Homo sapiens: one gene and its partners. The protein of the gene in region 4 purifies or fractionates together with the protein of the main gene of each other region. This does not show direct contact. Each region holds a gene or a part of one and is shown on either strand. Other genes may lie near its edges. The genes, in order: NDFIP1, NAT14, TNFRSF10B and HEPACAM2.

The links.
Region 1: the proteins of HEPACAM2 (region 4) and NDFIP1 purify together in Homo sapiens (affinity purification with mass spectrometry; 3 studies listed by BioGRID and IntAct, with this or other methods). This does not show direct contact.
Region 2: the proteins of HEPACAM2 (region 4) and NAT14 purify together in Homo sapiens (affinity purification with mass spectrometry; 3 studies listed by BioGRID and IntAct, with this or other methods). This does not show direct contact.
Region 3: the proteins of HEPACAM2 (region 4) and TNFRSF10B purify together in Homo sapiens (affinity purification with mass spectrometry; 3 studies listed by BioGRID and IntAct, with this or other methods). This does not show direct contact.

Annotation. Positions count from the first base shown.
Region 1 is NC_000005.10:142,132,713-142,139,889, reverse strand, and holds part of NDFIP1 (NEDD4 family-interacting protein 1), read right to left. Parts: intron 4,161-7,177; coding exon 4,073-4,160; intron 2,157-4,072; coding exon 2,032-2,156; intron 1-2,031. UniProt on the Homo sapiens protein: Activates HECT domain-containing E3 ubiquitin-protein ligases, including NEDD4 and ITCH, and consequently modulates the stability of their targets. As a result, controls many cellular processes.
Region 2 is NC_000019.10:55,480,858-55,488,069, reverse strand, and holds NAT14 (probable N-acetyltransferase 14), read right to left. Parts: upstream 2,883-7,212; 5' UTR 2,812-2,882; intron 2,410-2,811; 5' UTR 2,362-2,409; coding exon 2,290-2,361; intron 1,663-2,289; coding exon 1,114-1,662; 3' UTR 504-1,113; downstream 1-503. Other genes in the region: ZNF628 (zinc finger protein 628), read right to left, coding at 3,697-6,869. UniProt on the Homo sapiens protein: Probable acetyltransferase. May act as a transcription factor that regulates the expression of coproporphyrinogen oxidase by binding to a promoter regulatory element.
Region 3 is NC_000008.11:23,065,965-23,073,560, reverse strand, and holds the start of TNFRSF10B (tumor necrosis factor receptor superfamily member 10B isoform 1 precursor), read left to right. Parts: upstream 1-4,529; 5' UTR 4,530-4,666; coding exon 4,667-4,810; intron 4,811-5,140; exon of another isoform or gene 5,141-5,332; intron 5,333-7,596. UniProt on the Homo sapiens protein: Receptor for the cytotoxic ligand TNFSF10/TRAIL. The adapter molecule FADD recruits caspase-8 to the activated receptor.
Region 4 is NC_000007.14:93,223,463-93,230,880, reverse strand, and holds the start of HEPACAM2 (HEPACAM family member 2 isoform 1 precursor), read left to right. Parts: upstream 1-4,411; 5' UTR 4,412-4,434; coding exon 4,435-4,513; intron 4,514-4,929; coding exon of another isoform or gene 4,930-4,998; intron 4,999-7,418. UniProt on the Homo sapiens protein: Required during prometaphase for centrosome maturation.

The DNA of each region.
Region 1 (7,177 bases), on a different chromosome or scaffold from region 4:
TCAGTGCCAAAAGCAATTATTATTATTATTAATTTTAAGAGACAGGATCTCACTATGTTGTCCAGGCTGCATTTGAACTCCTGGGCTCAAGCAATCCTCTCACCTCAGCCTCCTGAGTAGATGATACCATTGCCTTCTTTCTAATGAGGCCTGATTTTCTTCCTACTCCTCCAGCCTTGTCTTGACTTTGGAAGCTTTATCATGTATACCAGGGTAATCCCCTTCCCTTGCTGGTTTAGGAATGGGCACAGGATGCCATTCTGACCAGTGGAAATTGAGGGCTTCTGAGAAGCTTTCCTTGCTTCTCAAAGAAAAAAACAGTTCTTTCTAAAGGTGGTAGAAAATTTTTTTTTAAATAGTTCTTTTTCTTCTCTTGAGCACTGTCGTGTTTCAATGTAATACTGATACGTGAAACTGCCATCTTTTAACCCTGAGGGGAGGGGGGACCTGTGCCAATATGCTGATATGTCAGCTGTCCTTGATGATGTCAAAGAACCACTGACTTAACTAACCTTGTCAGGGACTTGTTTTCAGGGGAAATAAAATTTCCCCGTTTAAAAAAACAATTAAAAATTTTTTTCTAAGCCATTTTGAGCTAGGTTTTTGTTACTCACAGTCAAAAGCATCCTACCTGATACAAGTTAATTCATTTAACTTTTTTTTTTTTTTTGAGAAGGAGTCTCGCTCTGTCGCCCAGGCTGGAGTGCAGTGGCACGATCTCGGCTCACTGTAAGCTCCACCTCCTGGGTTCACGCCATTCTCCTTCCTCAGCCTCCCGAGTAGCTGGGACTACAGGCCCCCGCTACCATGTCTGGCTATTTTTTTTGTATTTTTTTAGTAGAGACGGGGTTTCACCATGTTAGCCAGGATGGTCTCGATCTCCTGACTTCGTGATCTGTCCGCCTCGGCCTCCCAAAGTGCTGGGATTACAGGCGTGAGCCACCGCACCCGGCCCATTTGATTCACTTTTTAAATGCAGTTGAAAATTTAGTTTGAAAAAAAAAAAAGACTGGAATTAATTTTATTTCTCTTTTCCTTGGAGGCTTTGGTGTCCAAGAGTTTAATGTAGTTCGAAAAGTAAAATATAGTATTTTCTTTGTTAATAAAGTAACAATTAAAATTTAGGGAAGGAATGAAAACCTCTTTAGGGCTCGAGTTCTTAACCTAAAGTCCATTATTATAGATGAGTACATATTAGCTATGTGGGGGAAAAGCTTACAACTTTCATCAGATTCCCAAAGGATTCTGGAACCCTAAAAACGTTAACAAATGTTTTATAATAAATAAGGTGGCACTACGTAGAAAAACTACAGTGGTCAAGCAACACCCATTAGTTAGTTAAGTATGCCAATTTATGACGGATAAATTGGTTTTGTTTATAAGGTTGACGATAGCAATAAATTTATCTGAAATCAGAGGATACTTTAAAAGCCTAGATCTTTTACAACTGTAAATTACTTCATGCAAATTTAACTAACTGGTAACTCTGAAGTCACTAAAGACATACATCTCTGTAATTTACTTGAGAGGTAGGCTCCTAATGGAGCAATACTTGTTAAACAGTTTTGGCTCCCCAAACATTTTGGCATAAGCAATCCTGGAAGGGAGAGGGGAAGAGAAGGAGAAAAGAAAAGAAGGAAGAAGAGAGCTAGATTAAAACTGTAACAGAATTAATGAGAGGAATGGCTGCTTTTGATGAGATATCAAAGGGGTAATATCCTTCCTTTTATTATAAAAACAACTAATTTCAGAACATATACATTATCATATTATAAACATTAAAAACAAACAAAGCAGATGGTGAACAATATTAATGATAGACCAGTTTTCAATAGATTTGACAACAAAACTTGTGTGCATGAACCATTTGCAAATGATTTTGGTTCAGCTTCATCATGAAACCACAGACAAACCAAAAATCATTTAACACACTGAAATAACTTTTAAAAAAGCAAATGAAAAATCGAATATTCAAAAATATTCTGATTATTGCCTCTCTGTAGAGCCCATCTTTTCTGTTATACAACTTACCCTGACAATCAGGATCCATTTAATTAGAGAGAGACCAAATCCTGAAATGGCCCCATACCTTCCTGCAGCTGAAGTGGTCAGGCAAAAAGACAGGAAAAACCCAATCCAGTTAAAGAGGAATGCCACTGCAAAAGCAGAGGAGGGGAAAGATGTTAGACATGTCCTGTTACCCAAGAACAAGAGTGCCTTACACCTGCCTCTGTTTAAATGACTTTCCAAAGGATAAAAGACAGCCTGTCCTCCACAACCGTCACCATACCTCCTCTAAAACATCCATTCTTCTGTCTTTCCCCAAAAAGCAAACAAGAAAAACTCCTCCCTATCAGGTTTTACACACTTATGTCTACTGCTAGTCACTTTCAAAAACGCCTTAATAGGCTGAGCACAATAGCTCACATCTGTAATCCTAGCACTTTGGGAGGCCAACGTTGGAGGATCCCGAGCCCAGCAGTTTGAGACCAGCCTGAGCACCACAGTGAGACCCATCTCTACAAAAACTGAAAAAAACAAAACAAACAAACAAACAAACAAAAGCCGGGCACAGTGGTGCACACCTGCAAGTCCCAGCTACTTGGGAGGCTGAGGTGGGGGGATCACTTGAGCCCAGGAAGTCAAGGGTACACTGAGAAGTGATCACACCACTGCACTCCAAATTCAGCCTGGGCAACAGAGCAAGACCTTGTCTCAAAAGGAAAAAGCAAAAAAAACAAAAAACAGCAAAAAGCAAACCTTAACATTCACCAAACTGTATACTTACAACCTCTGCTTTTTTTTTTTTTTTTTTTTTTGAGACTGAGTCTCACTCTGTCACCCAGGCTGGAGTGCAGTAGCACGACCTTGGCTCACTGCAATCTCTGCCTCCCAGGTTCAAGTGATTCTCCTGCCTCAGCCTCCCGAGTGGCTGGGACTATAGGCGTGCACCGCCAGGCCCGGCTAACGGCTAATTTTTGTTTTTAGTAGAGATGGGGTTTCTCCATGTTGGCCAGGTTGGTCTTGAACCTCTAGCCCCAGGTGATTCGCCCACCTCAGCCTTCCAAAGTGCTGGGATTACAGGCATGAGCCACTGTGCCCAGCCTTTGACCTCTTTTTTTTTTTTTTTTTTTGAGACGAAGTCTCACTCTTGTCCCCCAGGCTAGAGTGCAATGGTGCGATCTCACCTCACGGCAACCTCTGCCTCCCGGGTTCAATCGATTCTCCTGCCTCAGCCTCCTGAGTAGCTGGGATTACAGGTGCCTGCCACCACACCCAGCTAATTTTTGTATTTTTAGTAGAGATGGGGTTTCACCATGGTGGCCAGGCTGGTCTCGAACTCCTGACCTCAGGGCATCTGCCTGCCTCGGCCTCCCAAAGTGCTGGGATTATAGGCATGAGCCACCATGCCCAGCCTGACCTCTGCTTTTTACTGTGTGTGTTATATATATATAGTCCAGTAAATAAAATAAATGCCTTCAACATTAAATAAGTGCCCCCAAATAATCTGATTCAAGTCACTCATCCTCCTGTTCTCTGAATTTTGACAACTTATATAACATCACCTCTAAAAGCATTGCATTTTCTTATCTTTCTAATACAACAAATAAAGGAAATGGTTGCTCACTTCTATGTGAGGCACACAAAAAGATAAATGGCAAGTAACATGAAGGGAGAAAATCAGGCTGACTTTGATCTGTCAGAAAAAAGAAGCTTTCAGAGCAAAATTCATCAAAGGCATTTAATTCCTATTCTACAGATTAAGTATGAGTAGAAGCAACGCAAAAGGGCCCCGTAGACCTGGAAGATGAGGCTTAGCTCATGTAAAAATGCAGCATCCTCATAACTGCTTTAATTATATTTTCCACAGATATTCATGAAAATAGAAGGCAAAGAGAAGGGATATTAAAACAAAGGTATATTAAGCTTTGAATATTCCAGTAAAAGGCACCAAATAAACATAATGTATTAATATATTAGCTCAACTAGTTATTTTAATTCAGTCAGATTCACCCATAATCCAAAGCACTCTAGTTTGTAGGGGGTGGTTCTGATATGCATACATACTTACTGAAAAAAGTTAACATGAAAATCCCATCATTTCCTATCCTCAGCTGGTCAGCATCATCAAAATCATCCCGACCCACAAAATCCTCATCCTAAATGAAAAGAAAAAGAATTATTTCTAGGCAAAGGGAAGACATAAAGAAAAATGAAGGGTTAAATTTGAGTAGCAAGGAAAAAAGTTATTGCTTTGGTTCAGTTCAAAATTATGAGCATTAAAGGCTCAATGTGTGTTTAAAATTCCATTTTGCATTATTAATATATAATTAGAAAAGAAGCAAATCTTTCTTCTATCCCCAGTGTTCTAAATGAAATTTTCATCTTATAACCCAAGTTCTTTAACAATACACTTCAAAAATTTAATACACTTCAAAAACAATACACTTCAAGAATAGTTCACAAAGAACTATTTACTCTTCCTTTAAAAAAATATACCTCAAGAAAAGACAAAAGACAAAATTTACTTACACATTTGGTTTAAATTCTAGAATATCAGTAATCGAGGACCTGTTTAGGACCTAAAATATTAGTAATTAGAGATAAAATCAGCCAGGTGCAGTGGCTCATGCCTGTAATCCCAGCACTTTGGGAGGCCAAGGCAGGCAGATCACGAGGTCAGGAGATCGAGACCATCCTGGCTAACATGGTGAAACCCGTCTCTACTAAAAATACAAAAAAATTAGCCGGGAGTGGTGGCGGGCACCTGTAGTCCCAGCTACTCGGGAGGCTAAGGCAGGAGAATGGCATGAACCCGGGAGGCAGAGCTTGCAGTGAGCCAAGATCCCACCACTGCACTCCAGCCTGGGCAACAGAGTGAGACTCCGTCTCAAAAAAAAAAAGATAAAATCAACCAGCTCAAGTGCTTTACGAGGCTGATATAGGGGAAAAAAGAATAGTACGATCATACATGAATAGTCCACAGAACTGCCCACTGCTCAACTCCATAAGCATGTATTTGTATTGGTATACAGATCTAAATCTCACTTCTAACCTTATCAGCAGATAAGATCTTTTCCATCCTAACTTGATAACGTAATATTGCAAAACTAGAAATAACATGATCATGAACAATACCAACACATGTGGGCTATCTTTTTAACTGATATAGGTGTGTGTTGAGATATTTAAAAATAATTGAATATATACTTAAAAGTGATAGATTTGTACACAGTTCAATGAGGGCTCCTTAAATGAAAAATATTTTAGGGAATATCAAAACTTGTTGTACACAGAAAAGGGTCTGGAAGACCCAAATTGTTAACAGTGGTTCCCCTGGGGAGTGGGAACTAGAGAAAGGGAAGTCGGTGGCAATGGCAGCTTCCTTTTCTAACTTAACATACTTCCTCTATTGTTTGAAATTTCTATAAAAACGAATTTTTATAATTAATTTTTTAAAACATTAAATACCTAGTATTCTTACTTCGTATCAGCAGAATAAGGTTTTGCCAAAATTAAAAGCTAATTGTTTTTTGCATAACTATTCAAAGATATACTCCAAAAAATATATGGAAGTAACATCTAATAATATTACGAACACCTTCTAACTGTTCTTCCTGTCCTCTTGGTATCTCTTCTACCATGATGCATCCTAGAAATTGCTGCCAAGTTAATGTTTCCAAAACACCACACAAGTCCTCTCATACCCCTGCTCAAAAACTCTGAAGGATTCTCTAAAAGCTACATATGAAGTTTAAATACGCCCATCTAACATTCCAAAGATTCTATAAACAACAGTTGTAGTCAGGACTTTCTATCTCCCTTCACAAACTCTTGCTCATACAAAGCCAATTACTACATCCACAGAACTGCCTTCACCTGGCTGAATTCACACCTGCTTTCTGTGCCTTTTTCCCTCTGGAATGTTCTTACCCATCAAAACTCCGGGCCCACATCAAATCTCATTTTCCCCTATGATCACCCAGTAAAAAGTTTCAGTTCTTGATGCCCACTGCTCTTATGTGTCTTAGTTATCAGTATTTGTGGGCCCTTTACCCTAGTTGGATTTTAGGCTTTTGAATAACAATGAGGAACACTGCCTTATACAAAGCTTTTTACCTATCCACTGTAAAATATACTGCATCTTATATTTAAAAAGTGCTTTATACATGTCTGCTGAATACTAGAGCCCTTTAAGAAGTTCCTAAATATGTACTTGTATCAAATGAAAGTATTCTGAAGAGTTATGTGATTAATCAGAGCTAATTTCCATACTGATCTATTTACCATATATTGCAACAGATCTGCAGAGTACAGTGAAACAAACAAGGACTTTGGATTCTAGAATATCTGGGTTTGACTTTCACTTCTGCTACTTATCAGTCATATGACTTTGGGAAAATTACTTTTTCTCTCTGGACCTAAATTTTCACATCTGTAAAATGGAGATAATATAATCTCTACCTTTCAAGGTTACTATGAAGATTGGAAACAATATACAAAATATATAAAAGCATCAAGCACAGTACCAAGCATGTGGTTTGCTTCCAATATACGGCAGTTACATTATGATGGTCTTGCCCTTAGACACTAGGGTTTTTAGTTTCTCCCTGGTACCTGTAAGAACTGAATGCACATCATCGCCATTTAGGATCATCCTAGATTGGGCTCATAAACTATTTCTACCAAGCAATGATTTTAGGAGCTTCGCTCCTCACAGTAGGTGTGGTCTGCAAACTGTCTACTATCTTAAAGCCAAGAGGGGAACATCTGGGCCTATGCCATCACACTGCCCAGACTAGGCTTCTGTACTTGCTCATCACTCACTCCAGTTACTTGCTAGAATAGAGCCTAGAGGCCTGATGGTCCCCGCATTTCTGGGGACTTATCCTGCTTCCATTCTCCCACAATGCCCTACCTTCATCAGCCTCAATCTGGATGAATATTTACAAAATGACAAATGCAGCACTCACATATCTGACATCAAGAACCAAGAGTGCCCAATAATCTCCACTGGTTTATATGGCATCCCAATCTCCACCTCCATGAATCAACATCAGGCTAGATGGAATCTGAACTCACTATGTCCCCACAAATGACATGATCTGGACTGCTGGAAGAACGGAGTTCATCTAAATCAATGTGAAGATCCCTCTTATGAGTTTAATTCTACAAA
Region 2 (7,212 bases), on a different chromosome or scaffold from region 4:
TGGTGCAGCAGCAAGAAGATTTGCAGCCAGACACCAGGAGGGACTTCCTGGGTTAGGAAAAGAGACTGAAAGACCCGGCCCTCCAGTCCTCCCACTCACTGGTGGATCTGAGTGTGAAGCCCCCAGTCCCCAGCTGAGAGAGGAGAGGTTGAACTTCACTGTCCCAGAGGGAGCTGGGGTCGGGGGATAAGCAGCACAAGGGTCAAGGCTTGGGAAGGGGAGGGGCTCCACACACTCTTCCACACACTCACACACACACACACACACCCCACTGCCTGCACACCAGGCAGCTGTGAGGCGGAAAAAATTCGGTAATGGGGAGCGTGACTCAGAAGGGCTGGCAGGGCCTCGGGCTGCCCCTGAGCTCACAGCCTCCCCTTCTCCCAGTCCAGCACCGTCCCCCAACAATTAATGTTAACTGGGGAAAGGAGAAGCCAGACAGAAATGGGCGGGGGTGTCCGGAGACAGACTGGGAAAGCCATCAGAGAAGAGACAGGCACACAGCGGTTTCAGGCTTTATTAACAAACGGTGTAAAAAACCAGACGGATCTGGAGGAAGGGACAGGGCTGCCCGTCTCAGCTCTCAACCTTCCCAGAGAGGGGCCAGGCCTGGCAGCCCTGTGCGTCGCGCCTCCTAAGCAGTCAACCTTGTCCCCTCCAAGGACAGGCATCTGACCCAATCCAGGTCCCAGGGAGGCGGAGTCGCAAACCCTAACTCTGGGGTGTATTCTGCTCGGCCTCCTCTCCCCCTCCCCAGATAGCTCTCCCAGCCTGGGGCACGGACAGCACAGACTTTGCAGACATCACCCGGGGAGGTTTCTCAGTGCAGACAGGAGCTGAGGTAGGGGTTGGAGAGGCTGACCTCGAGAGGCCCCCGAGGGCCAGGAAGGAAAAGGAGTCATTCCACTCTGAGAAGCTCAAACACAACAGACTTCACACTGCTGACGGGTGGACAGAGGCCAGGCTCCTCCCCTCGGCAGGCCTCTGTTTCTGGGCCCAGGGTGGTTGAGGACTCACTGAGGGAGAGCAGGTAAAAGAACCCGCAGACAGTAGGCGATCATCAGGTGCTGGCGCCCCTCCCTCCTCCCCTGCCCTGGCTGTCAGTCTGTAGCTTCACAGGTCTTTGCTGAATTCCCTCACCAGCGTGTAGCCCAGGCAGCCCCAGCCCCCCTCGGCCTGGTAGCCACAGCCCTCCAGCATCCCTCCCACCCCCCAGGCGGCCACAGCCACGGGGACCACGAGCCGGGCCCGGGGCTCCCCCATGCCCCCAGCCCAGGCCCGAGCCCGGGCCTCCGCGAAGGCCAGCAGCCTCCTGCCCACGCCCCGGCGGCGGTGCCAGCGAGAGACAGACAGGCGGGTGACCCGGGCCCCGTCCCCTGCATTTGTGCCAGGGGCCAGAGCCAGGACCCCACACACGTCACCGGAGCCCCGCACGGCCACCCAGGGGCCCCCCAGGCCACCCGGCGGAGGCAGCGAGCCCCATCGGGCCCGCAGGCCCAGCTTCACGGCGGCCACAGCCAGGAACACCGGCAGGAGGAGGGCCAGGGCGAAGGAAGCCAGGACAAAGCGCAGGCCGCTGCTGGCCGCCGCCAGGAGGAGCAGGGCCGGCGGCCGTGTCAAGGCATGGAGGGCCACGCGGTTTTCCGTGTCCTTCACGCCGGCCTGTGGGCAGGAGGGGTGGCTCAGCCATCCGAAACGCTAGGGCCTCCTGGACAAAGAGAGGAGGTAGACCCTGCCCGGGGCGGGGTGAGAGCTCCCAAATGGGAAGGGAAGGCAGCACAGTCCGATGTTCAGTGTGGCACACTGGGTATGGAGTGAATGAATGAACGAGAGCGAATGATGGATGGATGAGTGAATTAGGAGCTGTGGGGGCACTCAATTCAGTAGCAATGCCGCAGTGAGGCCCCAGGGAAGTAAGGACAGGGAGGTTGCCTCAGGCTGGAGTGGAGGCTGGAGGGAGGCTGCTGGGCTAGGTTGGGGTGCTGGGCTGTGCTTTGAAGAGTTGGGGTCCGAGGCACAGAGCTGGCTGTTGTGCTGGCGTGCACAGCCGACTGGAGATGGGAGACCAGGGAGGGCGTTGGTGCTGGGGTCCCAGTAGGGCTGGGGGGGTGAGCCCCCACCTGCCACACCTGCTGTGGTTTTCAGCAGCAGGGCGGCTGAGGCTCAGGAGGAAAAGATCCCGCTCCAGGGGTCCAGGCTGGCTCAGGTGGGTGGGAGGGGGTGGCTGAATCCACTTGCAATTCCCCCACTGCAGCCACTCCCAGGCCCCCTGGGGCCCCTGCCTCTCACCTTCAGCATCTCCAGCACCAGGGGCTTCTCATCTTCCCTCATCTCCCGCACTGACAGGTGGCTGGGGGCCATGGCAACCCCCAGGCCCCGGCCCCCCAGAAGGGAGCTGGCGTCGTGCACCTGGTGAGAACATAAGTAGGTCAGCGTCAGGGGGGCACCTCTGTCCCCAAAGCTCCCCCGAGGGGTAGGGAGCAGCAACGGCACTTCCCAGATCAGGACACTGAGAACCCTCGGGGCCCCCAAGCGAGGATCTCGGCAGGACAGGCGCCCCCCACAATACTCAGCGACCTTGCTAAAGTCTCCCGGGATCCCCCCTCCCCCGTATTATTCAGCGATCTACACTCCCAAACGCGCTGCGGACGCCAACACTGCAGCACGGGGCTCCCTCCCAGGCACTGGGGTCCACGAACACCCTCCCCACATGCCAGAGAACGGACCACGCTCGCTCCACCCCGGTCCCCAGCGCCCCCTCCCCCACAGTCGTCCCCGTCCCGCGCCACAAGAACAAGGACCAGCAAGCACCTGCACCGGTCGCCTTTGGTCCTTCGACAAGGTTTCGGGAGCGGGTCTGGAAGGGGGTCGCGGGCGGAAGTGACGTCAGACCGCGCGCGGTGGGGCGGGGCGGCGCCCGCTCCGGGCCGTAGCAACCGTTGCTAAGCTCCCCGGAGGGCGGGCTGGGAGGAACCGAGCTGTGACCCTGCGGAGGGCCGGGAAGCGACCTCTCCTATCCCTAGAGAAGGAGCAACGGGGAAAGGGGACCTGGGGAAGAACGGGAGCGGAAGCCGGCAGGAGACGGGCGGCGGGCTGGGGACCAGCGCGAGCTCCCGCCCCACGTTCCCTCGTTGCTGAGCAACCTGAGCGCCGGGCGGCGACGCCAGCGCGTGGATTCTCATCCGTGCCGGGGCCTTCGCGGGAGGAGCCGGCCACGCTCAGCATCCTGGCGCCCGACTCCCCCATCCCCAGGGACCCCACTCCACCCACGGGGCGCCCGGGGTCGCAGAACCCTTCCGCATAAGGATCCCCCTACTTCTCACACGAGGGGGGCAGCGGGGCGACCTACAGTGAACAAGTAGCACTCCCTGGAGTCTGATGTCACCACCTCCCCACTATAATGACCCCTGCGGCCTTTTTTGGTTTCAGGACAGGGGAACTGAGCCCTACGTAGTGGCTGGCCCCAGGATGCAGAACAAGCCATCTGCGACCCAGGACGCAAGACTTAAGACTCCACGCTCCCAGGCGGGGGCTAGGACCATGACTTTGCCCCCTTCCCTCCCCCCAGGAAAACAAAACACAGGCGGGGAGACTCGGGTCTTTATTAGCAAGCCCAGCCTGCGGCACCCTGCCCCGCCCCGGCTGGCAGTGAGTCGGGGTCTCTGTGCGGGGCGGGAGGGGAATCACTGCCTCTCCTCAAAACGTGTGCACCAGCTGGACTGCGGGTAGAGTCTGGACAATCTGGATGGAGGGCAGGCCCTGAGGGGTCATAACACCAGGCCCAGCTCCTGCGGGGACCACTTGCACCATCTGGGAGGCTGGAGCCCCGGGGAGCCCCGCGGGGCCCGAGGCTGGGCCTGACGGCGGTGGGGCCAGGAGCTGCAGCGTGGCGGTGCCTCCTCCAGTGTTGCTGCTGTCCAGCAGCTCAGTGGCTGGGGCGCTGCGGATGATGAGGAGTTTCTGTCCGGGTGGGCCGGTGGCAGGCGGCTCCGTCAGCCCAGGAGGAAGTGTTTCTACCTCCTGTACGCAGAGTCGAGTCTGTTCGCCATCGGCCCCGCTCAGCACCAGCACGCTCTGCAAGCCCTCGTCCGTCTGGAGTGTCTCAAAGAGGACATCCTGGACCACACCAGTGCTGGCCTCGCCATCCCCCGCCTCCCCGGGGCCCGGGCCAGTGAGCAACTCCTCAGCTGCCCCGCTCTGAACAACCAGCAGGTTGGGTGCCTCAGTAGCCACAGCTCCCCCACTGGAATTGGAGAGCTGGCCGGCCACGGGCTGGAGCTGGACCGTGGTCACCTCCTGTGCTGGCTGGAGCTGGACCGTGGTTACTTCCTGTGCTGGCTGGAGCTGGACTGTGGTCACCTCCTGCGCTGGCTGGAGCTGGACCGTGGTTACTTCTGGGGCTGGTCGGAGGGGCTGGAGCTGCACCCCACTCATTTCCTGTGGCCCTGCCTCCCCACCCCCCACATTCTGCAGAACGATGAGGCTCTGCCCTGTCCCGCTGGCCCCAGCGCTGGCCGCTCCCTGCACCCCTAGACCCCCAGGGCCTGGCAGCCAGACCACTCCCGCCCCCTGGCCCGCTTTCCCCACTGCCCGCGGGCCCTGCCTTGCACGGCCGCCCCCAGCCCCAGCACTGGAGGAGGGCAGCAGGATGAGCTTGGGAGGTGCGGGAGGGGGCGGAGGTGTAGGGGGCTGCACGCTGCTGGGGATCAGCTGGAGGCCCTGGGCAGTTTGCACCAGGAGGAACGTCTGAGAGTTGGGCGCTGCTGGCCCCAAGCTCGGGGCCTGGGCCGTGCCCCCCGCCACCTCGAGGGAGAGCGTGGCCTGGAGGTGGGGCAGGACGTGGACATCTTGGGTGGCTGGCGGGGCCCGCGCAGCAGCCAGTGGAGCAGGGGGCTGGGGGCCGGCGGCAGGGGCTGTGGTGCTGGGAGGCGTGTTGGCCGGGGCGTGCGTCCTCAGGTGCCGCTGCAGATAGGCGGCCATAACGAAGCCGCGACCGCAGATGGGGCAGGTGAAGGGGCGCTCCGCCGAGTGCGTGCGCTGGTGCAGCAGCAGGTTGGAGGAGTGGGTGAAGGTCTTGGGGCAGAGCGGGCAGCGGAAGGGCCGCTCGCCCGTGTGCACGCGCTGGTGCTGCCGCAGGTTGGAGGTCTGCGCGAAGCTCTTGCCGCAGACACCGCAGGCGTGGGGCCTCTCGCCAGTGTGCACGTGGCGGTGGCGACGCAGGCACGACGTGTTGCGGAAGGCCTTGCCACACTCCCCGCAGGCGTAGGGCCGCTCGCCAGAGTGCAGCCGCAGGTGGTACTGGTAGTGGGACGACCACTTGAAGGTGAGGCCGCACTGGCCACAGGTGAAGGCCCGCAGGCCCGTGTGCACCCGCTGGTGGATGGCCAGCAGGGAGGAGCGCTTGAAGGCCTTGCCGCACTCGCCACACTGGTAGGGCCGCTCGCCCGTGTGGTCCCGCAGGTGGTAGCGCAGCCCGGAGGAGCCCTTGAAGGACTTGCCGCACTCGGCACATTTGTAGGGCCGCTCCGCAGAAGCGGGGGCGGACGGGGGTGGCGGCGGGACGGGGGCGGCAGGCGCCAGCGGTTCCTGGGGGCAGGTCACCTCCGCAGCCTCAGCCTGCGGGGGCGGGCGCCCGGCCGCGGCCTCTTCCACGTGGCACTGCTGATGCGCCAGGAGGCTGGCCAGCTGCGGGAAGGAGCCGTCGCAGCTGCCGCAGCGGAACGCTTGCCCGCCGGCAGCCCCGTGGCTGTGCTGGTGGCGGGAGAGCCCAGCCACCGTCCGGAAGGACTTGCCGCAGGGCAGACAGGCAAAGCCAGGCGCGGGGGCGGCGGCGGGAGGAGGGGGCTGCGGCAGAGGGGACGGTGGCTGGTCGGCCTTGGGCGCCTCGGCGGGTGCCTCCTGGGGCTGGGGCGCCGCATCGGGCCCGGGGCACGGCTGGTGCTCCAGGAGCAGCTCCTCGCTGCTGAATCCCTGCTCGCAGCCATCGCAGCGGTACACCAGCTCCACCGTGGTCTCCGCCGCCGCCAAAAAGAGCTCAGGCACCACGGGCGGGGGCGGGGGCGGCGGGGCGGGAGGCGCGGGCGGGCTGTGGGGCTGGAGGTGCCGCTGCAGGTAGGCGTCGCACACGAAGACCTTGCCGGGCTCCCGGGACTGGGGGGGCGGGGCCGCGGAGGCGGTACCCGGGGCGGGGGCGGCGCCGTGCGTGCGCTGGTGCAGCAGCAGGTTGGAGGAGTGGGTGAAGGTCTTGGGGCAGAGCGGGCAGCGGAAGGGCCGCTCGCCCGTGTGCACGCGCTGGTGCTGCCGCAGGTTGGTGCTCTGCGTGAAGCTCTTCCCGCAGACTCCACAGGTGTAGGGCCGCTCGCCGGTGTGCACGTGGCGGTGGCGCCGCAGGCTGGACGAGTTCTTGAAGGCCTTGGGGCAGTCCGGGCACGGGTAGGGGCGCTCGCCTGTGTGCTGCCTTAAGTGGTACTGGTAGTGGGACGACCACTTGAAGGCCAGGCCGCACTGGCCGCAGATGAAGGCCCGCAGGCCGGTGTGCACGCTACGGTGGATCTGCAGCAGAGAGGAGCGCTTGAAGGCCTTGGGACAGTCGGGGCACTGGTAGGGCCGCTCGCCCGTGTGGCCTCGCTGGTGGTAGAGCAGGGCCGAGGAGCCTTTGAAAGCCTTGGGGCAGTCTGGGCACTTGTAGGGCCGCTCGCCTGTGTGCGTGCGCTGGTGGTGCAGGAGCCGGGACGACCACCGGAATGACTTGCCACACTCCCCACATTCGTACTGGGCCGCCGGGGCAGGGGCCGCAGGGCCTGGCTTCTCCCCGGCCCCCTCCGCAGTAGAGGCCGGCGCCATGTCCGCGTGGGAGCCGACCATCACACCTGGGGGAGGGATTCTGGGTCAGCGGCTCACCCCCGCACTGGATCATCTCAACCCCAAACCCACACACGGGCTCTTTAAGGGACAGGGACTACCTCCCCAGGTCACCCACTTTGCAGGGGACCTTCCTTAGGATGAGGGTCTCCAATGGTCCCAGTTTGCTTGGGACTTGAGCAGGTGCCAGCGATGCTGCACTTTCAGTGCTGAAATGGAAACTCCCCAGCAAACTGTGGCCACCCTCCTTAGGAGGCTAGCCAGGTCTGAGAAGGCTGGGGCCCGCCTTCAAGAGAGCAAGCACTGCCTGTAGGAGTCTGCTCCCTCCCTCTCCAGACAGGCAGGGTCCCT
Region 3 (7,596 bases), on a different chromosome or scaffold from region 4:
TTAGCCGGGTGTGGTGGCGGGCACCTGTAGTCCCAGCTACTTGGGAGGCTGAGGCAGGAGAATGGCGTGAACCCAGGAGGCGGAGCTTGCAGTGAGCTAAGATCATGCCACTGCACTCCAGACTGGGCGACACAGCAAGACTCTGTCTCCAAAAAATTAAAAAAAAAATAATAAAGTATTCAGGGATAAAGAGAGAAAAATAAATTTAGATTGTATACATATGTAAAATATATTTTAAAAGGTAAGCTTGTCTTTTTTATTCCTTAAAGGAGCAGATATTAAAAAAAAAAGAATAGAATAACTCATCTTTTTAGCCTCCACATATTTACTTGCTTCTTCCCAAGTTACTTGGTCTAATTCAGTATATAAGTAACTGACTCTCACTGCTTTTTCTGTGCCATGTAAAACTTGCATTGTATTAATTTGTGTGCTTTTCTCCTGTGGACCTGTCTTATGTCAACTTAATTCTCAGGCCCAGCCAAAAAAAAAATACCCTTAAAGGGAGCTTAGCTTGCCTCCATGACCCTCAATGGTGGCTGTAATCAAACCACATCTTCCAGGCAAACAATACCACATCCTATGGCCTTGCAATGGCATGGCCTCCCTCCAGCACAGCCTCTCTGGAGGAGGGGGAGGCAAGGGTGGTGAGATCTCAGGCCTCCCTCATGCTACCTCCTATTAGTTATATGACCCCTGGTGTCACCTCTCCCACCACACTGTAGGCTCCAGGGAGTAGGATTCACATGGGGTTCATTTGTCCTCCCTGCCTTCAGCAGACTCCAGGCACAGGTGTTCCCAGAGTAAAGGGCTCACTGTCTGCTTCCTGGGTGAATCATTCTCCCCGCAAACCCATGAGGTGAGTGCAGTCGTGGCTTCAGCTCACCGCCTGACAGGCTCCAGGCTGTAGCACAGGGAGGGCCCTGTGGACTCTGCTGAGGAACCATACGAGCTCCCAGAGGCCAAGTGCAGGACAGAGAATAGAGAAGCAGCTGCTCAGAGAACTCTAGCCCTGTAGAGGTGCAAATATGGCTGCTATTATACAGAAGGTGAGGCCAAAAATGCTGGAGACACTGCTCCTGAATCTCAGTTTTGCCACTTGTAAAACAGGGAAAACAACCTACTCTCATGTCCCCAGGTTGTTAGGAAAATCCACTACATGAAGATGTGCAGTCTCTGGCTGGGAGCAGGACACCAGCTGCCCAACAGCACAGGCTCAGGGCATGGCACTGTCTCCACTGTCCCCATCCCCAACCTGGAAGCTAGAGCCTCGCTGCCCTGCCACTTCTGGATGCAGGACAGAGAACCGGAACTGGGACTGTGGTCTCTCAGTAGAGGCTGTGAACAGCCATCTGTGGCCACACGGATTGAGACCTTTCCTGCTCACTCTTCAAACTGGGGCACCGGCTGGGTGCCCAACAGAAAGACAATTGGAAGAGTGGCAGGTAAACCAGGCTGTGGCCCTGCAGTGCCATCACCGTCCTCATTTGAATTCTGGCTCGTCTGTTCCTCTACGGCCCCTCCGCATGGCGCTCCACCCCAGTCTTCAGAAATTTCTGCCTCAAGCTCAGGGAGCTGGTACTGAGGTACAGGTAGGAGAAGGTGCAGCCTCTGCTGAGTGGAGGACATGTGCCCTGGGGATCCAGAGTCTAGAGTGACTGACACCAGCCCTGCAATTTGTCCTCCTAGACCTGTTAACAGAGCCTGCAGAAGTTTACACAGGGCTGCTGAAGATTTTTATCCCCTCATTTTACAGGAAGGAGCTGGGGCCATACCAGAGTCAGAGCTGGACCGGGAGCACGGCAGGGCCCAGCCATCCACAGCCTCCAATTTCAGTACTCTCTAACAACCTGAGAGCCTGAGCCTTCGGATCTTCTTGATTCCTACTTTGATAAAGAGAGGGATGGGGTTGGAAGGACCTGGCATAGAGATTGGACCAGTCCGGCATTGACAGAGCCAGGACCTGGGGTCCGGAACTGAGCTCAGCTCCAGGCTCATCTGAAGTCACCCTGACAGCCTGAGGATGGAGACCTTATTTCCATTAACAGGCATGGCGGTTGGCAGGGACTGGCCCCAGCTGAGCACGGTTTTCCAAGTACACAGCTGGGAATTAAGTCTTCTCTGCCGCCCTCCCCTGTAGTCTTGCCTGGATCCCCCCAGTCATCTACTCCCAGTACCAAAAACTCCTGTATTCTTGAAAATCCGTAGTACTGAGAGGTGACAGCTTGCTGGCAGTCCTCAACAGCCCTCGCTCGCTCTCGGCGCCTCCTCTGCCTGGGCTCCCACTTTGGCGGCACTTGAGGAGCCCTTCAGCCCACCGCTGCACTGTGGGAGCCCTTTTCTGGGCTGGCCAAGGCTGGAGCCCGCTCCCTCAGCTTGCACGGAGGTGTGGAGGGAGAGGCGCGAGCGGGAACCGGGGCTGCGCGCGCGGCACTTGCGGGCCAGCTGGAGTTCCGGGTGGGCGTGGGCTCGGCGGGCCCTGCACTCGGAGCAGCCGGCCGGCCCTGCCGGCCCCGGGCAATGAGGGGTTTAGCACCCGGGCCAGCGGCTGCGGAGGGTGTACTGGGTCCCCCAGCAGTGCCGGCCCACTGGCGCTGCGCTTGATTTCTCGCCGGGCCTTAGCTGCCTTCCCGACGGGCAGGGCTCGGGACCGCCATGCCTGAGCCTCTCACCCCCTCCGTGGGCTCCTGTGCAGCCGGAGCCTCCCCGACGAGCACCTCCCCCTGCTCCAGGGCGCCCAGTCCCATCGACCACCCAAGGGCTGAGGAGTGCGGGCGCACGGCGCGGGAGCACGGCGCGGGACTGGCAGGCAGCTCCACCTGCAACCCCGGTGCGGGATCCACTGGGTGACGACACCTGGGCTCCTGAGTCTGGTGGGGACGTGGAGAACCTTTATGTTTAGCTAAGGGATTGTAAATACACCAATTGGCACTGTGTATCTAGCTCAAGTTTTGTAAACACACCAATCAGCACCGTGTGTCTAGCTCAGGGTTTGTGAATGCACCAATTGACACTCTGTATCTAGCTAGTCTGGTGGGGCCTTGGAGAACCTTTGTGTCCACACTCTGTATCTAGCTAATCTGGTGGGGAAGTGGAGAACATTTGTGTCTAGCTCAGGGATTGTAAACCACCAATCAGCGCCCTGTCAAAACAGACCACTCCGCTCTACCAATCAGCAGGGTGTGGGTGGGGCCAGATAAGAGAATAAAAGCAGGCTGCCAGAGCCAGCAGTGGTAACACTGTGGAAGCTTCCTTCTTTCCCTCTGCAATAAATCTTGCTACTGCTCACTCTTTGGGTCCACACTGCCTTTATGAGCTGTAACACTCACCTTGAAGGTCTGCAGCTTCACTCTTGAAGCCAGCGAGACCACGAGCCCACCAGGAGGAAAGAACAACTCCAGACCCACTGCCTTAAGAGCTGTAACACTCACTGGGAAGGTCTGCAGCTTCACTCCTGAGCCAGTGAGACCACGAACCCACCAGAAGGAAGAAACTCCGAACACATCCGAACATCAGAAGGAACAAACTCCAGACACGCCGCCTTTAAGAACTGTAACACTCACCGCGAGGGTCCGAGGCTTCATTCTTGAAGGCAGTGAGACCAAGAACCCACCAATTCCGGACACAGTACCATGAAGGAATGAAAATACATAACAATGTGATGTATCATGTTTTATTTCCTAGACTAGTGACAAATGAAAGCTAAGTGTAGCAAGGGTGCAGGGACACAGGCACATTTGTGGACTAGGTGTGAGTGTAAGCTGGGTTCGATGGTCTTTTGGCCAACATAGTGAACCCCTGTGTCTACTAAAAATACAAAAATTAGCCAGGCGTGGTGGTGCAGGCCTGTAGTCCCAGCTACATGGGAGGCTGAGGTGGGAGTATCGCTTGAACCTGGGAGACGGAAGTTGCAGTGAGCCGGGATCACACCACCGCTCACCAATCTGAGCCACAGAGAGACTGTCTCAAAAAATAAACCACAAGGAAGGGAGGTAGGGGGAGGGGGAGGGAGGGAGGAAAGAGAAAGAGAGAAAGGAAGGAAAGAGAAAGCAGGAAGGACGGAAAGAAGACGAAAGAACGAAAGAAAACGAAAGAAAAAAGGAAAGAAGAGAGAAGGAGAGAACAGAAGGGGCAGGTGCCCCTGGGAAGGGGAGAAGATCAAGACGCGCCTGGAAAGCGGACTCTGAACCTCAAGACCCTGTTCACAGCCAAGCGCGCGACCCCGGGAGGCGTCAACTCCCCAAGTGCCTCCCTCAACTCATTTCCCCCAAGTTTCGGTGCCTGTCCTGGCGCGGACAGGACCCAGAAACAAACCACAGCCCGGGGCGCAGCCGCCAGGGCGAAGGTTAGTTCCGGTCCCTTCCCCTCCCCTCCCCACTTGGACGCGCTTGCGGAGGATTGCGTTGACGAGACTCTTATTTATTGTCACCAACCTGTGGTGGAATTTGCAGTTGCACATTGGATCTGATTCGCCCCGCCCCGAATGACGCCTGCCCGGAGGCAGTGAAAGTACAGCCGCGCCGCCCCAAGTCAGCCTGGACACATAAATCAGCACGCGGCCGGAGAACCCCGCAATCTCTGCGCCCACAAAATACACCGACGATGCCCGATCTACTTTAAGGGCTGAAACCCACGGGCCTGAGAGACTATAAGAGCGTTCCCTACCGCCATGGAACAACGGGGACAGAACGCCCCGGCCGCTTCGGGGGCCCGGAAAAGGCACGGCCCAGGACCCAGGGAGGCGCGGGGAGCCAGGCCTGGGCCCCGGGTCCCCAAGACCCTTGTGCTCGTTGTCGCCGCGGTCCTGCTGTTGGTGAGTCCCCGCCGCGGTCCCTGGCTGGGGAAGAGCGTGCCTGGCGCCTGGAGAGGGCAGGGAGAGAGGGGGACACGGCGGGGGTGCGTGGCCCGGGTCGCCTGCGGCCGGGCATGTCCGGGCAAGACGCACCAGTCGTCGGAGTCGGGGGAAGAGATGGGTCCCCGGGTTGGGCAGGAGCGACCTGGGCCGCCAGGGAACAGAGCGCGCGCTCCACTTGGTGTAAATTCCCGAATCCAGTGGGGGAGGGCGACAAGGAGGGAATTCCCGAGTAAGCTGCGTGAAGCCACGGAGAGGTCGTCGGACTTTGATTTTGTTTTCTTTCCTTACTTTCTGTTTCTTTCTCTTTTTCTCTTTCTTCCTTTCTTTCCCTCCCTTCCTTCCTCGCTCAGTTCCTGCCTTAATTTCTTTTTCTTTTGCGCCTTCGAATGAATTCCTAAAGGCGCTCATTGCAGATCGCTTTGAACCTGCGGCCGGCGAAGAACTCCCCTGTGGTCGCTGCGGCCCAGTGGTTCCGTTCCGTGCGCGGGAGTCGTCGCGGGCGCAGCTGGAGAGGCCCCTTCCCCTCCTTAGCGGCTGCGCCCCTACGCGTGCGGGGCCGCTCATCGCCAATGCCATTGTTTGGGGTTCCTTGGGAAAACGAGATTTAGGAGAAGGGAGTTGTGGCACTTGGGGCCTGACCTGCTTGATAATAGCAGCTGCATTTTGGCCTGGGAAGAGCCTTTCTTGCCACCTCTTGGCAAGTATCCGTGATAATGGGGAAGGGACAAAGAGTCGGCTTTGTAGGGAACAGCATGGTGTGCTCAGCGCCTGGAACTGCGCTTGGGGCCAGGAGAGGTTCTGAATCATCACATTTTACAGAGGAAGAGACCGCAGCTCAGAGTGGGGAAGTGTGTGGGCCTAGACCTAACTCAAGACTGTACAGAGGGGCTGGAAGGGAGAGGAGGAACAGTGAAAGGAAGGTCAAGAGAATGCTGGTGTTGACCTAGAAGAATGTCAGTGTGAAGCATTGGAGTTTCATGGGATATTGTTACACACCTCATGTTTTCACTGTTTCCGCCCCACACCACAGTATGTCCTTGGTCTCACCTCTGAGTGGAGGGAGGACCTAACTGTCCTAGTGAGGAGAGTGTACAGGGGCCTCTGCCTCCCCCTCCTGCTGTGGTTTCTGTGGGCCTAGGTCCCCAGGGCATCTTGCCTCTCTTTGGGTGGTGGATCTTTGGTCTCTGGCTGCTTTTAAAGATTTTTCTTAGCACTGGTTTGCAGTGATTTGGTTTGTTTGCTCTGTTGTGGGGTTTTTTTTTTATCTCTATAAAGAATTTTTTGGATTTTTGGCTTTAGACTTTCATGTTCTTTCTACTTGGAAGATTTTTCTGTAAAGAAAGCCACAACTGGGTTGTGTTGAATTTCTTGGATTTGGGGTTTTAGAGTTTATGTTCTCCTTGGAGACTTTTCTGTAAAGAAAGCCACAACAGCCGGGTCTGGTAGCTCATGCCTGTAATCCCAGCACTTTGGGAGGCCGAGGCGGGCAGATCACATGAGGTCAGGGATTCGAGACCAGCCTGACCAACATGGTGAAACCCCGTCTCTACTAAAAATACAAAATTAGCTGGGTGTGGTGGTGGGCACCTGCAATCCCAGCTACTTGGGAGGTTGAGGCAGGAGAATCACTTGAACCTGGGAGGCAGAAGTTGCAGTGAGCAGAGATGGCGCCACTGCACTCCAGCCTGGGAGACAAGAGCAAGACTCCAACTCAAAAAAAAGAAAGAAAGAAAGCCACAACAGAGTTATGTTGAATTTCTTGGATTTGGGGTTTTAGAGTTTATGTTTTTGTTTGTTTGTTTGTTTGTTTTGAGATGGAGTCTTGCCTCTGTCGCCTAGGCTGGAGTGCAGTGGTGGGATCTCAGCTCACTGCAACCTCTGCCTCCTGGGTTCACGCCATTCTCCTGCCTCAGCATCCCGTGTAGCTGGGACTACAGGCATGCACCACCACGCCCAGCGAACTTTTTGTATTTTTAGTAGAGACGGGGTTTCACCGTGTTAGCCAGGATGGTCTGGCTCGTGATCTGCCCGCCTCAGCCTCCCAAAATGCTGGGATTACAGGGGTGAGCCACCACGCCCAGCCGAGTTTATGTTCTACTTGGAAGATTTTCAGCCATTATTTCTTCAAATACTCTGTCTCTTCTGGTGACTGAGATCTTATTATATTTACGTTAGAATGTTAGATTTTGTATCAGAGCTAACTTAGTATCTGTTCTTTTTTTTCCCCCATCATTTTCTATGTTTCACTTTGGACATTTCCCTGTGAGGGCTCTTCAAGTTCATTGATCTGCTTCTGCAGAATCTAACCTGCTGTTAATCTCATCTACTGTATATCAGATATATATTTTTTGAACTTTAGAAGTTCTCTTTTGGCATTTTTAATATCTTCCATCTATTTCCTGGTCATCTTTGTGTTTTTCTTTTTTGAGACAGGGTCTTACTCTGTCACCCAGGCTGGAGTGCAGTGGCACAGTCAGAGTTCACTGCAGCCTCAACCTCTTGGGCTCAAGTGATCCTCCCACCTCGGCCTCCCAAGTAGCTGGGACCACAGGCACTTGCAACCACACCTGGCTAATTTTTGTATTTTTAGTAGAGACGGGGTTTCACCATGTTGCCCAGGCTGGTCTCAAACTCCTGCGCTCAAGGAATCCTCCCACCTTGTCCTCCCAAAGTATTGGGATTACAGGCCTGAGCCACCGTGCGCAACCTATGATTTTGGTGGTGGTGTTTTTTGTTTTTCTGTT
Region 4 (7,418 bases):
CTTGTGCATACTTGTATCATCACTGCGTTCAGCAATTCCTTTGAAATTATATGTTTACCTATATGCTTCTCTGACTCTGTTATTTCTAACCCCTTCAAGAAATTCTGGTCACATTTAGGGCAAGTCTAGTTTAGTTTATTCTTTACCTTCTCTAATCTTAATTGTCAGACTGTTCTTTGTGTGTGAAAATCTGCAATATTTAGAAGTCCCTGAAAGCATCAAAAGAAACAAAAACTGCCAGCCATATTAGCCTATAAAATAAAACCCAAGTCAATAAACATTTCTTGATTGTTGCGCTCAAGGCAACACTAAAATAAGCACTTTGATTAATAATCTATGGTTGTGGTCACAAGGAGTTCACAACTGGGTTTAAAAGCATATCTTAGGGGTGATCTGAGTTCAGTAGATCTCAAACCTGACTGTTCAGATTCACCTGAGGTGTGTGCTGTTATTATTGTTGTTTTCTTTGGGGATGTTTGTTTGTTTAAAATCTTCAGTGATTCTTAAAGGCAGTCCAGCTCTAGCATGTCAAATCCATGCTGTAAAGATGAGAAAACGTATCTGTATAAGGGTTCGAGACCACATATTTCATGAGAGCTTGATCTAGGACTAGAACCCAGATTCAACCCCGGAATTTTCTCCCTCACATACTCAAATACACAAAGTTAAAGATGATCCCCCCAAAAAGTTTTTTTTATCTAATATGTGTATTTCTATTGGCCAAATTCAGAAAAATGAGTGTTATCCCTATCTATTCGACACTGAAAACGCAAGAAAGTATTGAAACTTTGTTTTACTCCAAAACTCTACATTTTAGTTTATTTCCTACAAACTGGAGAAATGGATAAAAATGGATACAGTCTTCTAAATGTTTTAAGGCTATAACTATAATATTGAAAGCTTGTAAAGTAAATCAGCGCTGGTGTCTAAATAAACTATATTTTCTAATTCAGCATACCTTAACACTATATGAAATAATTGAACCTTACGTTATTCATTTCTATCTGTCTACGCTCAAAAAAACAAAAAACTTGGCATCCTAACAAACACTTTTTAAAAGGTTGGACATGCTGCTATTTCCTTTCCAATTTTCAAAAAGGTATTTATTTTTAAGATTTATTCAGGACTTTCACATTTACCTGAGAGCTGTTGTTAGTGATAGTCCAGTGCAAAATAATGGAAAGTTTAGATGGTCTGCCACCAAATCCTGGGGAAGGTTGGCTGGATACCAATTCCTTGGTAAAGGAGTGCAGAGCCAAGAGTTAAGTAAATTGATCTGATTCAGAACAATAGGATTAGTAGTAAAGTAGGATAAGGGCATATTACTAATGGCCCAAAACAGGAGGAATGTCTGGAAGCTTAAATAAAAGCTGAGATCCTGGTTTGATTAGAAAGATAAAATTTCTTACCACTCCACAAATACCAAAGCAGTGGAGAGATGCAGCCCCTCCAAGATGATATGACTACACTTCTTGAGCAGGCCATAACAGAAAACAGAACACTTGCCAAAGGTAAAGTAGTGACCTAAAGAGGTGCCCAGGAAGAAGACATTACTGCTTAGTATTTAGCAGCCATATAAGATAGATCAAGGCTTCCACGAGGCAGCTTTGTAGACTTTACAGAAGTGAACACTAGCACAGGCATAGGCATATGTGATAGCCTCCTCTGGCAGCTAACTCTCCCTGTAAACTGGAGAGAATCCACTAATTACAACAATAAGAAACATTTCTTTCCCCAGTTCTTATTCCCCACTGTTCTGCATCTACATTGACCTTGGCATTTCACCACCTCTCCTTAATTGTTTCTGCCACTGCAAAACATGCGTGTGCTAGCTACTTGTGATTAAAAATGTGGATGTTTGAAATGCATGCAGCAGACATTTACTGTATGAAGTAATACCAGTCTGCAATTTAAATAAACTAGATTGTAAACTGTGTAGTGTGATTTGAGAGGTAATAAAAATCCCTGCCCCCAACAAACATACACACACATACACACACACACACACACACACACCCTCCTGCACAGGAGTATATGTGTCCATATCCCATTGTAAATGCACGTGGACACACACACGCATACTCTATCCCAGTGGCTCCTTACATTGCTTGCAGTTTAATCACCGTGGATATAGATTGTTTTAGGTTAATCAGCCTTCTCATTTTAAATGCAAATATAACTAAGATTGGTAAACAGTAACACTACAGGCCCTTTTTTCCTGACTGGAATGATAACAGCAGAACTTCCCAGTGGGTTACAGGTGTGATGTGAGATATGGATGGTAGGAAAATTCTTATAATTATAAAACCTTCAAACTATTTTTAAGAATCATGTAAAAATTAACAATTGTTGAAGTTAAGCTTGAGCACTCTTTTTCTCACTTCCTGTGTAAACATGTTGAAATCAGAAGTTACTCCAGCAGGTAAGAGTTTATATCTACAGTTTACCACTAGAGGGCGCTTTGTCATGATTATCCCAGTAGCCCTTTCCCTAGATGTGCCGTATTATATTTCAATATGTGCCATGAAATAAAAAGATTACAAGTAAGATTCATATGGCATTTATTTTTTAATGTAGCATCTACTATCACCTTATGTCATGAAACAGGGAATATTTTCAAATACAACAAAGAAAATCTCAGAATAAAAAACTCCTTTATATTGAGTATATTTAACACTAGGGAAAAACACAGTACATTGTCTTTATTTCTCTTTTTGCCAGGGACCCAACAAACTTCATTATAATCCAGCACTAGATTGAAAAACACTGAAAACAGCTAATTTGATAACGGCAATTGGAGATTAATATCAATCTAAAAGATGTTGGGGGAACCTATGTGATATCTGTAGAACTTCCATATTACTTTCCAAATTGTATTTTGTGCAATCCAATATTAAAATTTATTTGTATTTCTTACGCATCAACTGAGAATCGTAAGACGGGCCAAGGAGCACTTAGAGTTTTGTTTTCTGGAGAAACAACTTAACAAAAATACCAGTTAAGCATTATGCTACGTGCCCAACATCCATGAATGAATAAGATTATTCTCTGTATTCGAGAGCTCAGAGGGAAAATAAACATCCAATAAAATAAAGATTAAGGAGATAAGTGCTGCAATAGATGTGTGTACCAGATTTAGAGACAGTGCAGAGAAAGTTGTGGCATTGTTATTATTTTGCAGGGAGGTGGGGGAAGCATGAGGAGCTCTTGCCATTTTTCTGAAGCATGGAGGGATCTGAAAGTGACTGATCTCTGAAGAGGACTTCGTTTTCCCAATAGTCACTTACTTTCTTTGCTTATAGAAGTCCTTCTAGAAGAGTTCAGAGCCCTAATGCAAAGAGTGTTTCCAAACTTGGATTCCAAAGTTACTATCATTCCTTTTTTACTTTAATTATGCTTGAGGTATAGTCTTCCTTCCCCTCTTATCATTGAACTTCTTCAGTGGGCCTTTACTGTTAAAACTGATGCATGCAAGGAATTTTCCTTGATTTGATGATTTGATGCAGATTTGGATATATCCTTAACATTTTATATAACAAGGCTAGAACCAGAGCCTTCTTGCAAATAGGGGTTAACTAATAACTTAGTAAATTAAGCGGACATGCTTAGACTATCTGCTGCCATGACAATGGAGAGACCAGGTTGAAAACCTGTAACCTGGACACTGCAGTAGAGGTAAGATCTTTTCTAGATCATTGGTTCACTTCCTCTATGCATCAGCTGTGAAAATGTGGCCTCAGATACTATCTCCTGGCATGCACTTTTCATTATAATTATGCATGGTCCATGCCTCAGTCCCAGTTGGAAACACACCTGTGATTTGCTTTTAAAAATAAGATGAATTCAAAGATTAAATGAAATCAGTCATTGTAATAGGAAACACTGCATAGAAAAAATACGTTTTAAATATATTCTGGATCTCTCTTTTGATTCATTGGTAGAATTTTTACATGTTAGTGACTTCATGAAGATTTATAACTGTTTAGCAGATACATGAGCTACTTCAATTTTCATATAATTTTTTTTAATTTTAAAATAATAATGGCATAGTTCTGCATGATAGAAAACCAGCTTTTGTTTTTAAGGAAATCTCACAATATTCTTTCATTATGAAAACATGCCATTTTTCAGTAAAGTCACGCAAAAGGATGTTTTCCTTCATGTGATTTTTTAATAACTAAGTATAATTTATGAAATATATAGACAATTACTGGTAGTTGCTAAGAAACTCTTCTGAAAGCCATAAGCCTGTATTCTTGCTAAGCACATAACAGGTGTTCCCACTCCCTGTGTCCTTTGTATACACATTCATTCTGTATTCAAATCACAGAAGCAAGAGGCAAGATAGGGTCTGTTACCTCACTGCTAATTTCCCTAGCAAATAAACCAGCAGCTGCTGGTCCAAGTTACCACTGAGAACAGGGCACTGCATGCATGGGACAGGATGCTTTCATGGAGCCCTTCGGTGACACACTTGGGGTCTTTCAGTGCAAAATATACCTCCTTCTCTTCGGTAAGGCCCTGTGTGAATTGTGTTTTAGCTGTTTGTTAGGTTTTTTTTTTTTAATTGTGGACATAAGGTAAATATTTGCTTTAGGCTGTAGATGCATTCAGATAATTGAAGAGCAGGTCAGAACCTTTTAACAATAACACACTGTTACAGCAAAGAAGCAGGAACATTTAAGAGAAATGAGTTTCAATAAATAGATTGTTATTGTTTTCTTGGAACAACAATTATTGTCATAGCACTCATTAAGATAATTCAGATATTTTTAAAAGATAATGAATTTCTTCTTTTAGAGTTTACATATAGGTTCAATAGTCTTTAATGCATTTATTTCAGCAAATATTCTAATAGGCCATGAAATTGTGACCACTTAGAGTGAAACTACAAATAATTTACGAAAATTGTTTTCTTTTTAATTAAAGATATTGTTGCAAACTGTTTACTGCTTCGTTTTAAGTTATCTGTCTCATCTTATGAAATATGGAAGAAAGGTAAGATTCCAAACTAACAAAAAAATTTCCTACACAAAAGGGAGAACGTATTTGAAAAGATTGTTACTCCAAAATGCCTTTAGCTTTTCTCTTTGCCCAATGGCTAGTCCTATTAAGAATTTTTTTCTACCTTAATATTTTCCCTCATTCTCCTCTTTATCTTTTGAGTTTAAAGGAGTCTCTTTCCAGCATTCCAACTGCTGTCTGTCAACATTATTTTCACCAGATGTTCTCATTTCCATTCTTCCTATTTATCAGTTTTAAAAGTCAAATCAATTTCTTGTTTTGTTTATATTCAACAGATAGGAGTTCAATTAAGGCTACATTTTTTAAAAATTAAGAACAGCTTAGCAAAATAAGCAATTTAACTTTTAGGCTTCTTCAGCTATTTAGAGCTTTACTTTCACTCCTATATTTTGTTAAAGTTTGCATTGTAAATGTTATTATTCAAATTCATACCTACTGTTGTACCTATCTCACACATTTGAAATGTACAGTTTGTAAATTTTTTTAAGTCTTTGAGTTTCCCAGAGTTGTGATTGTTCCAGTTATCACAGTATTTATGTTATCAAATTTAAGCCTATAATAGATTTTTGTTTTCTAAAATTTTTTGAAAAAGTAAATAATTATTATAACTGTCACTACCTTTGTGCATTTGTCTTCCTTTTGAAAGTATCCTGGGTCATCATCCCACTTATTTTTATATTTAAAACAGTAGGACTACTATCATTTTATAAGTGTTGTTTTTGAAACTGGCGTTAAGAAGAACTTAGAGACAATTTAGTTAAGGAATTCAACTAAAATAAAACAAATGTACATTAGGAAAATAGCATGTTCATAAATAGCTAAAGCAGTTTTTATACCTTAAGACCTTCTCTCTTCTGCAAATTTGCTTTTCTCCATAGGCAGTGTGTTGTAAAGACCACAGATGACTTGGCAATCTTTGCTTTTAGGAATATTGAAGTTTTGTTTGCTTCTTCTTTTTAAAAAATTTTTAAAAATTTGAAGCCTAAAATGTACAGTTTGTACAGTTTATTCAAAACACATCATAATTTCTATTTTCTCTAAAGATGCAAGATTTTATTTTCAGTCAACAATACTTGTGTTATGCTTGTTAATACCACACATGATAACAGGGAAGTAAATGCCAGCTATTTTGAGCTACAGCAGAGGTCACTTTGTGAAATCTGATGTTTATATTCAATACAATGAAACCGGTCTAGGGAGTCCTTTGTTGCTGGAATATAGATAAATTCTACAGTAGGACTTCAAGTGTACCTTAACACTGGATACTTTTTTATAGTGCTATTGTCATACAATGTAAGAGGGTCTGTAAAGGAGGGATCATTGCTGCAATTTTGTATGTCAGATTATGATTAGTATTATAAATGTTTCTCCAGATTTGTGTAATGCCTTATATGCAAAAAGTCAAGATTTTTTTAACAGAACTATAATTTATAAGAGTTTTTGTTTGTTATACTCAGAAAGTAATAGTGAATATAATAATAAAATCGAATTTAAATTTCCGTTTAAGTCCAAATATTTGGACTACTAAAAATAAATTTAAATTTCATCAATTTTTATATTATTTATTATTTTTGTTTTTGTATTTTTTCAAATAGAGACAGAGGTCTCGCTGTGTTGCCCAAGCTGGTCTTAAACTCCTGGGCTCAAGCAATCTGCCACCTCAGTCCCCTAAAGTGCCTGGGATTACAGGCATTAGCCACCACAACCAACCTTTTTATATTATTTATTTTCTTGAAGTTTATCTGTTCATGCAGAGGATGATTTTCTAAAATCAATAGGTTTAGTCCTTTGGGTTTTCTCATACAACTAGAAAAGAGCACTTGAAAATTTCTCAAAATGAAGCTAAGTTTTCTCACATTAGTAAACTACTGTGTTTGACAGCATGAATTCATCACATCTGTAGTGGGTGACACATCAATGATAAGAGAGTATGTGTTCCTAGAATGTGGAGGAAGCATTCAATTATCTGTTTATTCCCAAATTTCACTACAAGCAAAGATTGTATCATATTGATAGGTTCATGTCCAATGAAGAGATTTTACGTGGCTGAGATAAGATACTGTATAAAGAAAATTTCATTCCCTGCTGACATTCTTATAACTTGCTACCTATAATTTATCTGATAAAAAATTGTATAGGCAATCTCTAAGCAAATAGTTACTGTAACAGCTGTGCTATTTCTCACTGTCACACAAACATTTGAAAAAGCATACATATTTGAAAAAAACTTTTCATTTAATAAGAAAGCACTGAACCTATTCAGAGATATTGATGGCAATATATTATTTAAGGTATTATTACATGATGCAGTCTAAAATAGACCCCAAAACTAATTTTCCCCTAAATAATGATCACAAACGCTATATTAAATATCTTTTTCTACTAATGTAGTG